Homo sapiens: one gene and its partners. The protein of the gene in region 1 interacts with the protein of each later gene in a pairwise test. Each region holds a gene or a part of one and is shown in the gene's direction. Other genes may lie near its edges.

Region 1 (3,500 bases):
CTGAAAAAATGCTTTCATTCTCTATGAAACTGAAGGAACGTTTCATCCTTTCTAAAGTACTCAGGCAAGAACACAGTTTATCCGTAGGTACTATTTTTTCATATTCACTTAAGACAGGGACAGCCCTTGTGGTATCCCTAGACTAGTGCCTCACTATGGTGGGAGATGGAGAAAAAATCAGAACAGCTTGTGGGGTCCTCCCCCTCCCTCCGTACCAAACAAAACCAGGTGGTAGGTTTAGGGATGTCACTGAATAATCCTCTCAACCTTTTTGTATGTTTGACATTTTTCATAAGCAAATGTTGAGGGGGGAATGGAAAAAGAAAGAAAAACCAGGACTCCTGATCTGGCTAGGGACACGGCCACTTAGTATTTCTTTGCTCAGGTATAAACAGACATCGACATAGAAATGTCCAGTCTCGACTGCCCTGGTTGATTTTACTATTTGAATGTTTGTGGCACCCACAGATGCTTAACACCCCAAGTGTCTCTAGGAGCGTGGCTCTGCTGTGAGTCAGTGTCCGTGTGGTGGAGGGCCAGTGGGGTGGGGAGGTGCAGCTGCCCTAGGGTTTGGACTTCACGTGGAGACTTTGCCCTGCTATATCCTACCCAGTCCCTAGGTCCAGTCTTCTCATTGTGTAGCTATGTTTATTTATTTATTTAAATTTTTTTTCTTTTTGAGGTGGAGACTTGCTCTGTTGCCTAGGCTGGAGTGCAGTGGAATGACCTCGGCTCACAGCAGCCCCCGCCTCCCAGGTTCAAGCGATTTCCAGCTAATTTTTGCATTTTTAGTAGAGACAGGGTTTTGCCATGTTGGCCAGGCTGGTCTTGAACTCCTGACCTCAAGTGATCTTCCTGCCTTCCTGCCTCCAGCTCCCAAAGTGCTAGGATTACAGGCATGAGCCACTGCACCCAGCCGTGTAGCTATGTTTAAAAAGGGAGCCATTGTTCAAACACGAGTTTGCTAAATAGGAGTAGTTAGGAGACTTTTTTCCCCATTTTTAAAAATTGAGGAAAAATATACATATTTATCCTTTTAACCATTCTTAAGTATACAGTTCAGTTAAGTGGCATTAAATGCACCATTACTGCAAACATCACCACTGTCTATACATAAGACTTTTTCATCATCCCAAACAAAAACTGTACCCCTTAAGTAAAAATTCCCTGTTCCCCTTTCTTCTGGTAATCTCTCTTCTTTCTGTCTCTATGAATTTGCCTGCTGGAGGTAACTCACATAACTGGAATCATACAATATTTCCTTTTTGTGTTTGGCTTATTTCACTTAGCATAATGTTCTTGAGGTACATCTTTATTGTTGCATATGACAGGATTTCCTTCCTTTTTATAGCTGAATAATATGCCATAGTTCTGCGACTTTTGTTCTGTGTGAACCTCCCTTGGGCCCGTTTCATTTAGACCTGCATGTTAAACTTCAGAGAAGGTGCTGCTGTTGACTGAGGCTTCGTTCTCCTTTATCACCTTAGACCTTTGGGGTGGCACTGGCAGGCTTTGTCCTCAGTGTGGAACTGAGGACGCAGATTCGGTGCTGAGTGACTACCTGTGTCTTTCAACAGATGTTGCGTGGGCCTGTGTGCACATGCCTGGGAGTAGATGGGGGTAAACCAAACAGGATGCTCCTGCCCTCGTGGTGCTATCAGATTCTTCAAGAGGAAGCACACCAGCCAGTGGTGGTGCTGTGGGAAGGGCTGGGAGTGAACATGTATGGTCCCTTAGATTGGGGAGGTCAGGAAGGTCCTTCTGTGGGAGGGGTTCTGGGCTGAGGTTTTAGGAGTAGGAGTGAGCCAGGCAGGTGGGGTTGAGTTGGGCTTTTTTTTTTTTTTTTTTTTTTTGAGACAGAGTCTCACTCTGTTGCCAAGCTGGAGTGCAGTGGCATGTTCTCGGCTCACTGCATCCTCCGCCTCCCGGGTTCAAGCGATTCTCCTGCCTCAGCCTCCCTAGTAGCTGGGACTATAGGTGCGTGCCACCACACCCAGCTAATTTTTGTATATTTGGTGGACACAGGGTTTCACCGTGTTGGCCAGGATGGTCTCGATCTCCTGACCTCGTGATCTGCCTGCCTCAGCCTCCCAAAGTGCTGGGATTACAGGCGTGAGCCACCGTGCCCGGCCCAGCGTTCGGTTTTTCTAGCTGAGAGAAAGGTTTTGCAGGTTGGGGAGGACAGGAAGCATCGGTGCCTTTGACATACACAGGATCACAGAGTCAACCCAGACCTGCTGTTTGAGCCGCAGTCAGCATCTTGAGGCTCAGATGCTGCTCAGAACTGACCAACCTGGCACCTGGCTGCAGGCACGTTTCAGAGAGGAAAGACTTAAGCTTTTCTTCTCTGTGTTTTTCTGTCTTTACAGTTAAAAGAAAGCTACTTTAACTTTCTAAGCATCATTCTCAAACACTGATTTAAAGAGGAGTCACTCGGCTGGGCATGGTAGCCCGCGCCTGTTATCCCAGCTCTTTGGGAGGCTGAGGCAGGTGGATCACTTGAGATCAGGAGTTCGAGACCAGCCTAGGCAACAGGGTGAAACCCCCATCTCTGCTAAAAATACAAAAATTAACCGAGTGTGGTGGTGCACGCCTGTAATCTCAGTTACTCGGGTGGCTGAGGCACGAGAATCACTTGAATCTACAAGGTGGAGGTTGCAGTGAGCTGAGATTGAGCCACTGCACTCCAGTCTAGGTGACAGAGTGAGACTCTCCCAAATAAATAAATAAAAAATAAAGAGGAGTCACTTGGAGCAAGCAACCTGTTTCTGTGTTCAGTTTGGTAATTTTTCCGTGGTCTTATCTCCTGGCCTCATTAAACCTTTTTTGCCTAACTTATTATAAATCTTTAATTAGTAATGGTGATAATTGATCAGTATATCATGCATTACAGATTGAGCCTGCTGTCACACACAGCACCACTGTGATCCTCAAGGCAAGCCTGTCAGGTAGACAGTAGCGGGTGTTAGACCCTTGGTACCGTGCAGGAGCTTGAAACTCAGCAAGGTTAAGTGACAGGCTCAGACCACACGCTCAGTGCCAGAGCTGGGGAAGGACCCAGGCCTCCCACCTCCAGCCACTTTAGCACTGCACACCCAGTTTTCAGTGAGCTTCCCCTCCCTGTGCTTTTTAAACAGGGTCTTGCTCTGACTCCCAGGCTGGAGTGCAGTAGTGTGACCTTGACTCACTGCAGCCTCTACTTCCTGGGTTTAAGTGATTCTCCCACCTCAGCCTCCGGAGTAGCTGGGACCATAGGTGTGCCTCCACACCTGGTTAATTATTTAATTACTTTTAGAAATGCCGTCTGCCTCTGTTGCCCAGGTTGGTCTCCAGCTCCTGGGCTCAAGCAGTCCTCCCACCTTGGCCTCCCAAAGTGCCAGGATTACATGTGTGAGCCACTGGACCCAGCCTGCCCTGTGCTTTTTCACCTTTGGTCACTGCCTTCCTCCTCCACCACTGACACTGCTCTCCTGGTGGGCCGCATTGCCCAGACAGGTGAG
Region 2 (3,500 bases), on another chromosome or scaffold:
CATCTAAGTCTCTTCACCACTATCTCTTGGGCTACTAGGGCTGTGACTGATACTGTAGCCACTAGCCTCATGCAGCTATTTAAATTAAAATTAAATAAAATTAAAGATTCTGTTTCTCAGGTCCATGAGCCACACTTGTGCTCAGTGGCCACGTGGTCTGTGGTCAGTAGCCACATGTGGGCACTGGGTACCGTATTGGATGGCACAGATTTCCATCCAATAGAACATTTCCATCCCTGGAAAGTTCTATTGGCCAGTGCTGCCTCCCCACCCCGACTTTGGCCTCCTGTCCCATCTCCTGAGTGTTGGTCATTTTCTTCCCACCCTCCCAACCCCTCAGCCTCTTCTTCCTCCAAATTCCTTGTCTTCTGCGTCTTCTCCCTGCCTTCCAAGACTTGGTTTCTCTTCTCTCCTCTTTCTTTTTATTTTTTTTTTGAAATGGAGTCTTGCTCTGTCACCCAGGAGTATAATGGCGTAATCTCGGCTCACTGCAACATCTGCCTCCCGGGTTCAAGCAGTTCTCCTGGCCCAGCCCCCTGAATAGCTCGGATTACAGGCGCGCACCACCACACTCTGCTAATTTTTGTATTTTTAGTAGAGATGGGATTTCACCATGTTGGCCAGGCTGGTCTCGAACTCCTGACCTCAAGTGATCTGCCCGCCTCAACCTCCTGAAGTGCTGGGATTACAGGTGTGAGCCACCACGCCAGGCTGGTTTCTCTTCTCTTTCTGACATTTTGTGAGAGATACCAAAATGTCATCATCAAGAGCCTGAGATACCGGGCTGAGACTGACCTGGGTTCAAGTCCCAGCTCTGCTGCATCTCAACTGTGTGACTTTGGGCAGGTCAGTTGACCCCTCTATACCTCAGTTGTCCTCATTTGTGCAATGAAAAGAGCAGTCATTCTACCTACCTCACGCACTGTGAGGCTTCAGTGAGATTGTGCACAAAATGCACAGGGTCTTGCTTGTTGTGGCCTCTCAGTAAACATTTGCTGGTGACATTAGCATCTTTCTACCTGGCTAACCCCTGGCTTCCTTTTTCCCTCAGTGTGAAGCCATTCTCACAGACACCGTTCACCTTGTCACTGACTCCCCCATCTACTGACCTCCCAGGTAAGAGCCTGCGCTCCACCCTCCCTTGTCTCCCCTCTCTCTCTTCGACCCCTACTGCCTTTCCTTCAACCTTCCATCAATTGAGGGATACATTGTTTTTTTTGTTTTATTTTGTTTTGTTTTGAGATGGAGTCTCCCTCTGTCGCCAGGCTGGAGTGCAGTGGCGTGATCTCGGCTCACTGCAACCTCCGCCTCCTGGGTTCAAGTGATTCTCCTGCCTCAGCCTCCCGAGTGGCTGGGATTACAGGTGCCCGCCACCATGCCGGGCTAATTTTTGTATTTTTAGTAGAGATCGGGTTTCACCATGTTGACCAGGATGGTCTCGATCTTTTGATATTGTGATCCGCCTGCCTCGGCTTTCCAAAGTGCTGGGATTACAGGTGTGAGCCACCGCACCCGGCCAATTAGGGGATACATTCTTACTGAAGCCCAGCTTTGAGGCAGGGTGTGTGTGTTGGGGGCGGGGGAGCCGGGAGGGGCTGGAGAGCTGAGTGGTGGAACTGGTGATGGTTAGGAGATTTTGGTCTTTGCAGCCACACACTGGGTTTGTGTTCTGCCACTTGCTAGCTTATGAGACATGGGGGAGGTATGTTAGTCAAGATTCTTTCAGCTGCAAGTGATAGAAATCCAAATCAAGCCAGCTGAAGCAACATTTTAAAAAAGAAGAGGCAGGTGCGGTGGCTCACAGCTGTAATCCCAGCACTTTGGGAGGCCTAGGCGGGTGGATCACCTGAGGTCAGGAGTTCGAGACCAACCTGGCCAACATGGCGAAACCACCCCCCCCAACCTCTACTAAAAAATACAAAAATTAGCCAGGCGTGGTAGCAGTAGCACTTGCCTGTAATCCCAGCTACTCGGGAGGCTGAGGCAGGAGAATCACTTGAACCTGGGAGGCAGAGGTTGCAGTGAGCCGAGGTGGCACCGTTGCACTCCAGACTGGGCGACAGAGCAAGACTCTGTCTCAAAATAAATAAATAAATAAAATAAAAAATAATAAGAAAAATGTATTGATTTATTGGTTCCAGTAACTGACAGTTCAGAATTATGGCCTCAGGCGTGGCTGGATCCAGCGGCTCAAGTGATGGCATCAGTCATTACTTTGATCTGCTTTCCACTGTGGTGGCTTCATTCCCAGGCAGACTCAGCTACTTGGCAGCAAAGATGGCTTCTGGAAGTCCATGCTGATATGGCCCTGAGAACTCACATCAGTGAAAGAGGGAGTCCCTTAGTTTCCATAGATTTATCAATTAGGAATACTTTTGGCTGCAAGTAACAGAAGACCCACATTAAAAGTGCCTTAAATAGTAAAAGCATTCATGTTATGAATCCATGCAACAAAAAGCCTGGAGGTGGGCTGTTCCCGTGTGGGCTTAGCAATATCAGGACTGGAATCTCTGTAGTTCCTCTCATGTCTGTCTTATTGTCCCAAGATGGCTGTTGCAACTCCAGGGATCATGTCTGTGTTGGTCCATTTGCATTGCTGTAAAGGAATGCCTGAAACTGGGTGATTTATAAAGAAAAGAGGTTTATTTGGTTCACAGTTCTGCAGGCTGTACAGGAAGCATGTTGCCAGCCTATGCTTCTGGTGAGGGCCTCAGGAAGCTTAGGACCATGGTGGAAGGGGAAGGGGAGCCACTATGTCACATGGTGAGAGGGAGCAAGAGAGCGAAGCCAGGCTCCTTTAAACAGCCAGCTCACATCAACTCAAAGAGTGAGAATTCACTTGTTACTATGGGGAAGGCACCAAGACATTCATGAGGGATCCACCCCCATGACCCAAGCACTTCCCATCAGGCCCCACCTCCAACCTTGGGGATCACACTTTTTTTTTTTTTTTTGAGACAGAGTCTCGCTCTGTCCCCCAGTCTGGAGTGCAGTGGCGCAATCTCGGCTCACTGCAACCCCCGCCTCCTGGGTTCAAGCCATTCTCCTGCCTCAGCCTCCTAAGTAGCTGGGATTACAGGCACGTGCCACCATGCCCAGCTAATATTTTGTATTTTTAGTAGAGACAGGGTTTCACCATGTTAGCCAGGACGGTCTCAATCTCCTGACCTTGTGATCCACCTGCGTTGGCCTCCCAAAGTGCTGGGATTACAGGTGTGAGCCACCGTGCCCAGCTGGGGATCACATTTCAACATGAGATTTGGAGGGGACAAATATCCAAACCATATCAATCTCCCAAGCAGGACTTGGCCAGGGCCAAAAGCTTTCTCCTCCCAAAGTTCTGTCTTTTTCATTCAGGAAGAAACTCCTTCCCAGAAGCCCCCCAGCAGATTTCCCCTAACGTCTCATTGGCTAGGACTGTGTCACATGGCCACTTCTAACTGCAAGGGAGGCTGGGAAAGTGAGTATTTAGCTTTTTCAGCTTCTAAGTGGAGGCAGGC
Region 3 (3,213 bases), on another chromosome or scaffold:
AACTGTCTGTACCTGCCTGACTGGAAAGTGCATGCTCCTTGCACAGCTTTGCGAGCCTTATGTGTGTCTGAATGCTGGCAGGTTTCTGAAGAATCGGACTGGGAGCTCATGGTTTAATTACTGCTTCACTTTATTTATTGAGCACCTACTGTGTGCCAGGCATAGCTGCAGACCCTGGGGATATAGCAGGGAATGAACAAATCCTGCTCTCCCTTTGGCAGCACAGGAGATTAGGCGGGGACAGAACCTGGAGGTCATGCTGTTCCTTCCCCACTTAGGTACCTGGTGTTGCCCTGCAGGGCCCTGGGCCTCCCCAGCTCTGCCCCAGGCTTGGCTAGAGAAGCCCAGGGAGAGGGGAGGGTGCCCGCAGCCCAGGTGGAACCAGGCTCCGATCAGCAGGGCAGGCCTAGTCAGAGCAGGGGCATCAGAAGGGAGGGGCTAGACCCTCCCTGAATTCCTCCAGCTGAGACCCACCCTCAAAACAGCCTCGGGGCCCAGGTCTAACAGGAGGTTTCCAGGGCTCCAACAAAGGGGAACCTGAGACCCGCCCCAGAGGCCCTTGGGGCAGCTTTGAGGTAGTGAGCGGGAGGGTGGAGGGACAGGTATATAGGGACAAGCACTGAGGCCTCAGCCGGGCACATACCACCCTGTGGGTCCACGTCCACACACCTGCGCCCGTGCCAGGTGTCTGCGTGTGCCCGTGCTTGCGGGGCTTGCACAGGTGGCTCTGGGCAGCATGCGCCCCGTGAGTGTCAGGAGCTGGCAGGGCTGCACTCTCGTGTCTGCACATGTATTACCCCAGGTGTATGTGGATGTCCGTGAACCCCATCTGTGTGCACATTGTGTCACCCACCCCACGACTCATGGCTGTTTCCACAGACGTGTGCTTGTGTGCACGTGTGCACCTGTGTTTGAGGATTGTGCCCACAGGCCCGTGGGTAAACGTGTGCCGTGTCCACGCGGGATAGACGTGTGTGCATGGCCCCCTGCGTGACATGGGGCTCACATGGAAGACGGGTGCTCTGTGTCTGTGTATACCCGAATTGAGGTGCCCAGCACTGTGGGCTCTCCCCATCTTGTCCTCCCCACCCCCATCCAGCCCACATGGGATTTCTCAGCTGAGCAGCAAGGCTTAGAATGAATAGCTCTGAATGGAGCAGGAGGCAGCTTCCACACCCCACCCCGGCCCTACACCGGCCAGGGGAGGTTCTTTCAGCCTCCCCTCTCCCCAGTGCCCACTCCAGGCCCGCTCAGCTGCCTTTCTGTGCACACCTCCCCGGTCAAGCAAAAATCACACACAGAGCATGAAATCCAGGCTGACAAGCTTCAGGGGCTGCAGGCCTCAGAACAGTTCAGCCCAACCCCACTGCGTAGACTGAGGCTCGCCTGTCTTAGGCCACACAAATGCATGACAGCAGCTCATTGGCAGGCCTTTCGGGCAGGGGCTGGAGAAGATCACCCCTCCCGGCCCCTCCCAAGTCAAGGGCCTCTGAGCGGTGGCCCCACCCTGGAGACAGCATGTCCGGTGGAAGAGCCAGGTATCTCTGAAGCCAGATGGACCTGGGTTCAATCCCAGCTCCACCCCTTACTCACACTGTGACCTTAGGCAAGCATCCTGGCCTCTGTGCCTGCCTTCTCAGCTGTACAATAGGATAGTGAATCCCACCGCAGGGGAGCATTGTGGAGCCGAAGCGAGGCAAGCTGAAATGAGCACTTACTAAGTGCCCAGTAAATGCTGGTGGCCTTCTTTGAGTTTCTTGAGTCTGGTTGGGGGATACAACTGAAAGGGTGGGGGTGAGCTGGTCCTTCTACCAGGAGGGGACCAGCCCCTGAGGGCAAGGGCTGAGCTGCTCCTACCCTGCTCCTCTCTTTCCCCCACATTCTGCCCCACAGCCCAGCCCTGGTGATGGACCTCCCTGAGTCAACCCCGTGCCTGTCTCCCCAGCTGCCCTGGGCCCCCTGGGTGTGCCAGGCCCAGGGTGCCTCCCAAGCCCTCGCCCCACCCCAGCGGCCAGCTCCCCCATTTGGAAAAGTTGGGGGCTCCAAGCAGGCCCCACCGACGGGACACTGTGAGGGGATGACCCTGGGCAGGCGGGGTGGGGCCTGGAACTGGGAAGCATGCGCAGGCACAGCCCCTGCTGCCTCCAGCGCTGACCCTTTCCCAACCACTCACAGGCTATGAGGCCCTGGCTGAGGCCTCATGCCCCACAGCGCTGCCACAGCAGCCATCTGAAGATGTGGTGTCCAGCGGCCCCGAGGACTGTGGCTTCTTCCCCAATGGAGCCTTTGACCACTGCCTGGGCCACATCCCCTCCATCTACACAGACACCTGAAGGAGCCCCCACATGCGCCTGCCCATCCAGCACTGCAGATGCCACCTCGCCCACCTGCTGTCGCTCCCACCCTCCGTGCACCTAGCAGGAGTGCCAGGCCACAGCCGGAACAGCCAGGCCATGACCCAGGGGAGCCAGCGCTGCCACCCCACCCAGCGCTGCCAGGGAGCCGCCATCCGAGCTTGAGCTGGGCGCACAGAGGTGCCCGCCAGGATCTGTGGCCCTGTAACATTCCCTCGATCTTGTCTTCCCGTTCCTCCCCGCAGTGGTTTTGAAATCACAGACCTCGTGTATATAAAATATGCAGAACTTGTTTTCCGTTCCCCTGCCAGTTTTATATTTTTGGTTTTACAAGAAAAAACATTAAAAACTGGAAAGGAGATGTGAAGTCCTCGTTCTGCTTTATGATTCAGCCCAGAGGCTGGGACCGGGAGAGCCTCGGAGGAGGGTGACAGAGCCAGGTGTTCAGGGCTAGGGAGGCTGCGTAGAAACCAGCTCAGGCCCTGGGTTCTGACCACGAGGATGGGAACCAGTGGCACGTGGCCCCCACCATGCGCTATGGTCCTTACAGACACCAGCGCTAGTCCCAGGACTGTGCAGTGAGGTAGGCCCATCCCCATGGACAGGTGGGCAAACTGAGGCTGGGAGGGTGCGGCGACGGGCTTCAGATCCCGGGCCCCACAGTCAGACCACAGTTGGGACCCAGCTCCGTCTGACCTGGGCCTCTACCTGCTACAGCGACTCCTCAGCGGGTGGGAGAACGAGCTTCAAATCTAGTGTCTGGGCTTCTGCAAACAGAGAAAACTGGGAGGGCAGGGCAAGCTTGCTGGGGATGGAGCCCAAACAGCCTCAAAAAGCCAGGGCAAAGGCTGGTCCCTGC
Region 4 (3,500 bases), on another chromosome or scaffold:
ATCTACAGTGCACAGGTCTATGGACACTTAATTTATGTCAGCTGTGTATTTTTAATTAAAATGCTCCAAAAATAATGTCTTAATATGCTGTTCTTGACTTTAAAACTTTCAGACCACCTTGTATATATAACTGGGACTAAACGAGCTATCAGTAAGCATACATTTTTGGTTTCAAAACAGTAGTTAATTAAAATACTTTGAAGTTAGAACTTTTTTATTTTAGGTTCCTTAAGTATGATAAATCTAAAGCTCTTGATAACTCTGTAAGTAAGAGCGGTAACTATTATATTTTCAAGCCGTGGGAAATTACAGAGTCCCCAGAGAAATCCAGCAAGTTGGTACATAACAAGGAACGAAAGCAGGACTCCTAGTTGCAGTGTCTCATTTCGCTGCTGTGTGAGGAACTGTCTATAGGCTTCTATCTTTTTTCTTTGCCACTGAGTCAGTTTTACTTAAACTGTTGTGTGTGTGTCATTTTTATTACATTTGCCGTGCTTAAATGATCTCTATACCATCATTTACTTAGTAACGTATTTTTTTAAACCTTTCAACTTGTCCTAATTATTAGTATCTATAACACCTTTGTTGTCTTTCTTATATTTTTTCTAATTCACATTAAAACTAGTGTATAACTATTAAAATACAAAATGTTTGCACACCACCTAACACTTTGTGTAGCACTGGTGGCACACACCCCACACTGGGGGAAGTTGTGGACTACGTGAGCTTCAGTTCTTTCGCACAGTGTTGAATTCATGCTTGTGAACACCTACAGAGCTGGGAACTGAGGATGCGGCAGAAAATAAGCAGAAGTCTCTAGGCTGGTGTGGGAGAGTACACAGATCATGGCAGTACAAATGACTGCGATTTATGATGGGTGCCACAAAGGAAAAGTATAAGAGTTGCGAACCTATGGATATAAAAAACATGAAACAGGCCCAGTAGCTCCCGCCTGTAATCCCAGCACTTTGGGAGGCCAAGGTGGGTGGATTGCTTGAGCCAAGGAATCCGAGACCAGCCTGAGCAACATAGTTAGACCCCTGTCTCTAAAAAAAAAAAAAAAAAAAAAATACAAAAATTAGCCAGGCATGGTGGCATACTCCTGTAGTCCCAACTACTCAGGAGGGTAAGGTGGTAGGATCGCTTGAGCCCTGGAGGTTGAAGCTGCAGTGAGCCGTAATTGCACCACTGCCCTCCAGCCTGGCAGCCTGGGTGACAGAGCAGGATCCTGTCTGAAAAAAAAAAAAAAAAAAAAGAACAGGGGCTCTCAGGATATGTAATAGGAGTCTGATTTCTTTCTTTCTTTCCTTCTTTCTACAAATACTGAGCACCTGTGCACCAGGCACTATTCTAGGCCATTTGGTTATTAGCATACCCAAGGAAGTAATATTTCAACTGAATCCTATTGGTATGGCACCTAAACAACCTCCCCCCAACATTTTGTGTTCAAGAGCATTTTCATAAGCACTGTTGAAAGGAGACAAAGCAGTATGTGAGTCTGGTCTTTACTAAAAAGCAAATTTGAGTCACTTATAATGGATTCTTCATTACCAAATGATGGGAACCTAGTATTCAGGAAATAATGAGCTTACTTAAAAATGGTTAGGTCCCCACTTGTCTAGGCAAGTTAAAACTGCAGGCATTAGAGGTGTGTGAGCAAGAATCCTCTCTCCCCCTCAGGATGCCCAGGTTTCAGAGGAATCCATGCTTGCTTGGTTGTAGTTTCTAAGCACGATGTCCTGAAAGTCTGGCGTGAGACCCGAGGTGCTCGTGTCTTTTTACTTTAACTTCTGTGTGCTGGTGAGAGGAGAGAAGCAGCTGTTCTTCTCCAGGTGCTGCTAAGGCCTTAGTGGAAATAACGCCCATCAAGTTTTTATTAATGTTGAGCTGGCCACAGTCTAGGTCCTGGTGAGAGGCCTCTCTGCTGTGAGCCTTGGCTAGATGCGCTGAGGGGGCTCAGTGCATGTGTAGATGGATGTGTGTCTTGTTTATGCATGTAGATTTTGTTTTGTATTTATTCACATACATGGTGAGGAGATCGAGACCATCCTGGCCAACATGGTGAAACCCCATCTCTACTAAAAATTAGCTGGGTGTGGCGGCATGCGCCTGTAATCTCAGCTACTGGGGAGGCTGAGGCAGGAGAATTGCTTGAACCCGGGAAGCGGAGGTTGCAGTGAGCCGAGATTGCTCCACTGCACTCCAGCCTGGTGACAGAGCAAGGCTCCGTTTCAAAAAAAAAAAAAAAGTTAAACTTACACTTAACATATGACCCAGCAGTCCCACCCCTAAGTACATACCCAAGAGAAGTGAAAACTTACATTCACACAAACACTTGTACGCAAATGTTCACAGCAGCTTTATCCACTGTCCTCCCAAATTAGAAACCACCTGTCCTTCAACTGGTGAGTGAATAAACAAACTGGTGCATCCATACAATGGACCACCAATGGACGCAGCTATAAAAAGGAACAAATTATTAACACTAGGCCCTCACTTAATGTCATTGGTAGGTTCTTGAAGTGAAACAACACACACTGCAACTTGAAGTGAAACAACATACACTGAAGCCAGTTTTACCATAGGCTAATTGACATGAGTAAGAGTTAAGTTCCTACAGCATATTTCCGGTCCCCAAAACACCACCAGACTTTTAAATAAAGACCCAAAACAGGCCGGGTGCTGTGGCTCACGCCTGTAATCCCAGCACTTTGGGAAGCCGAGGCAGGCAGATCACCTGAGGTCAAGAGTTCGAGACCAGCCTGACCAACATGGAAACCCCGTCTCTACTACAAATATAAAAATTAGCTGGGCATGGTGGCAGGCGCTTGTAATCCCAGCTACTTGGGAGGTTGAGGCAGGAGAATCGCTTGAACCTGGGAGGCGGAGGTTGCAGTGAGCCGAGATTGTGCCACTGCACTCCAGCCTGGGCGACAGAGCGAGACTCCATCTCAAAAAAAAAAAAAAAAAAAAAAACCGAAACAAATGTGAGCTATACATTTATTTATTTATTTATTTATTTATTTTTTATTTTTTTTGAGACAGAGTCAGTCTGTCACCCAGGCTGGAGTGCAGTGGCGAGATCTCGGCACACTGCAAGCTCCGCCTCCTGGGTTCACACCATTCTCCTGCCTCAGCCTCCTGAGTAGCTGGAACTATAGGCACCCGCCACCACGCCCGGCTAATTTTTTGTATTTTTTTTAGTAGAGATAGGGTTTCACCATGTTAGCCAGGATGGTCTCGATCTCCTGACCTCATGATCCGCCTGCCTCGGCCTCCCAGAGTGCTAGGATTACAGGCGTGAGCCACCATGCCCAGCCAACATGAGCTATACATTTAAGAAAGATTAATAAAAGCAACATAATTATTTATCCAGTTTTTGGTGAATCCGTGCATGATGGTGGTCATAGTGGTGGCGGATTAAATCAAGAAGTATATGTTTACAAACAAAAATTATAAGGAGTACCTCCTACTACCATAAAGTTCAAAAACAAACAATA

The links.
Region 2: the proteins of LATS2 (region 1) and TEAD2 come close enough for resonance energy transfer, tested with the Homo sapiens proteins (one large-scale study listed by BioGRID).
Region 3: the proteins of LATS2 (region 1) and GLIS1 come close enough for resonance energy transfer, tested with the Homo sapiens proteins (one large-scale study listed by BioGRID).
Region 4: the proteins of LATS2 (region 1) and KDELR2 come close enough for resonance energy transfer, tested with the Homo sapiens proteins (one large-scale study listed by BioGRID).

The regions. Positions count from the first base shown.
Region 1 is NC_000013.11:21,051,587-21,055,086, reverse strand, and holds part of LATS2 (serine/threonine-protein kinase LATS2), read left to right. Parts: intron 1-3,500. UniProt on the Homo sapiens protein: Negative regulator of YAP1 in the Hippo signaling pathway that plays a pivotal role in organ size control and tumor suppression by restricting proliferation and promoting apoptosis.
Region 2 is NC_000019.10:49,348,917-49,352,416, reverse strand, and holds part of TEAD2 (transcriptional enhancer factor TEF-4), read left to right. Parts: intron 1-1,051; coding exon 1,052-1,116; intron 1,117-3,357; coding exon of another isoform or gene 3,358-3,460; intron 3,461-3,500. UniProt on the Homo sapiens protein: Transcription factor which plays a key role in the Hippo signaling pathway, a pathway involved in organ size control and tumor suppression by restricting proliferation and promoting apoptosis.
Region 3 is NC_000001.11:53,505,739-53,508,951, reverse strand, and holds the end of GLIS1 (zinc finger protein GLIS1), read left to right. Parts: intron 1-2,175; coding exon 2,176-2,333; 3' UTR 2,334-2,713; downstream 2,714-3,213. UniProt on the Homo sapiens protein: Acts both as a repressor and an activator of transcription. Binds to the consensus sequence 5'-GACCACCCAC-3'. By controlling the expression of genes involved in cell differentiation inhibits the lineage commitment of multipotent cells.
Region 4 is NC_000007.14:6,470,653-6,474,152, reverse strand, and holds part of KDELR2 (ER lumen protein-retaining receptor 2), read left to right. Parts: intron 1-3,500. UniProt on the Homo sapiens protein: Membrane receptor that binds the K-D-E-L sequence motif in the C-terminal part of endoplasmic reticulum resident proteins and maintains their localization in that compartment by participating to their vesicle-mediated recycling back from the Golgi.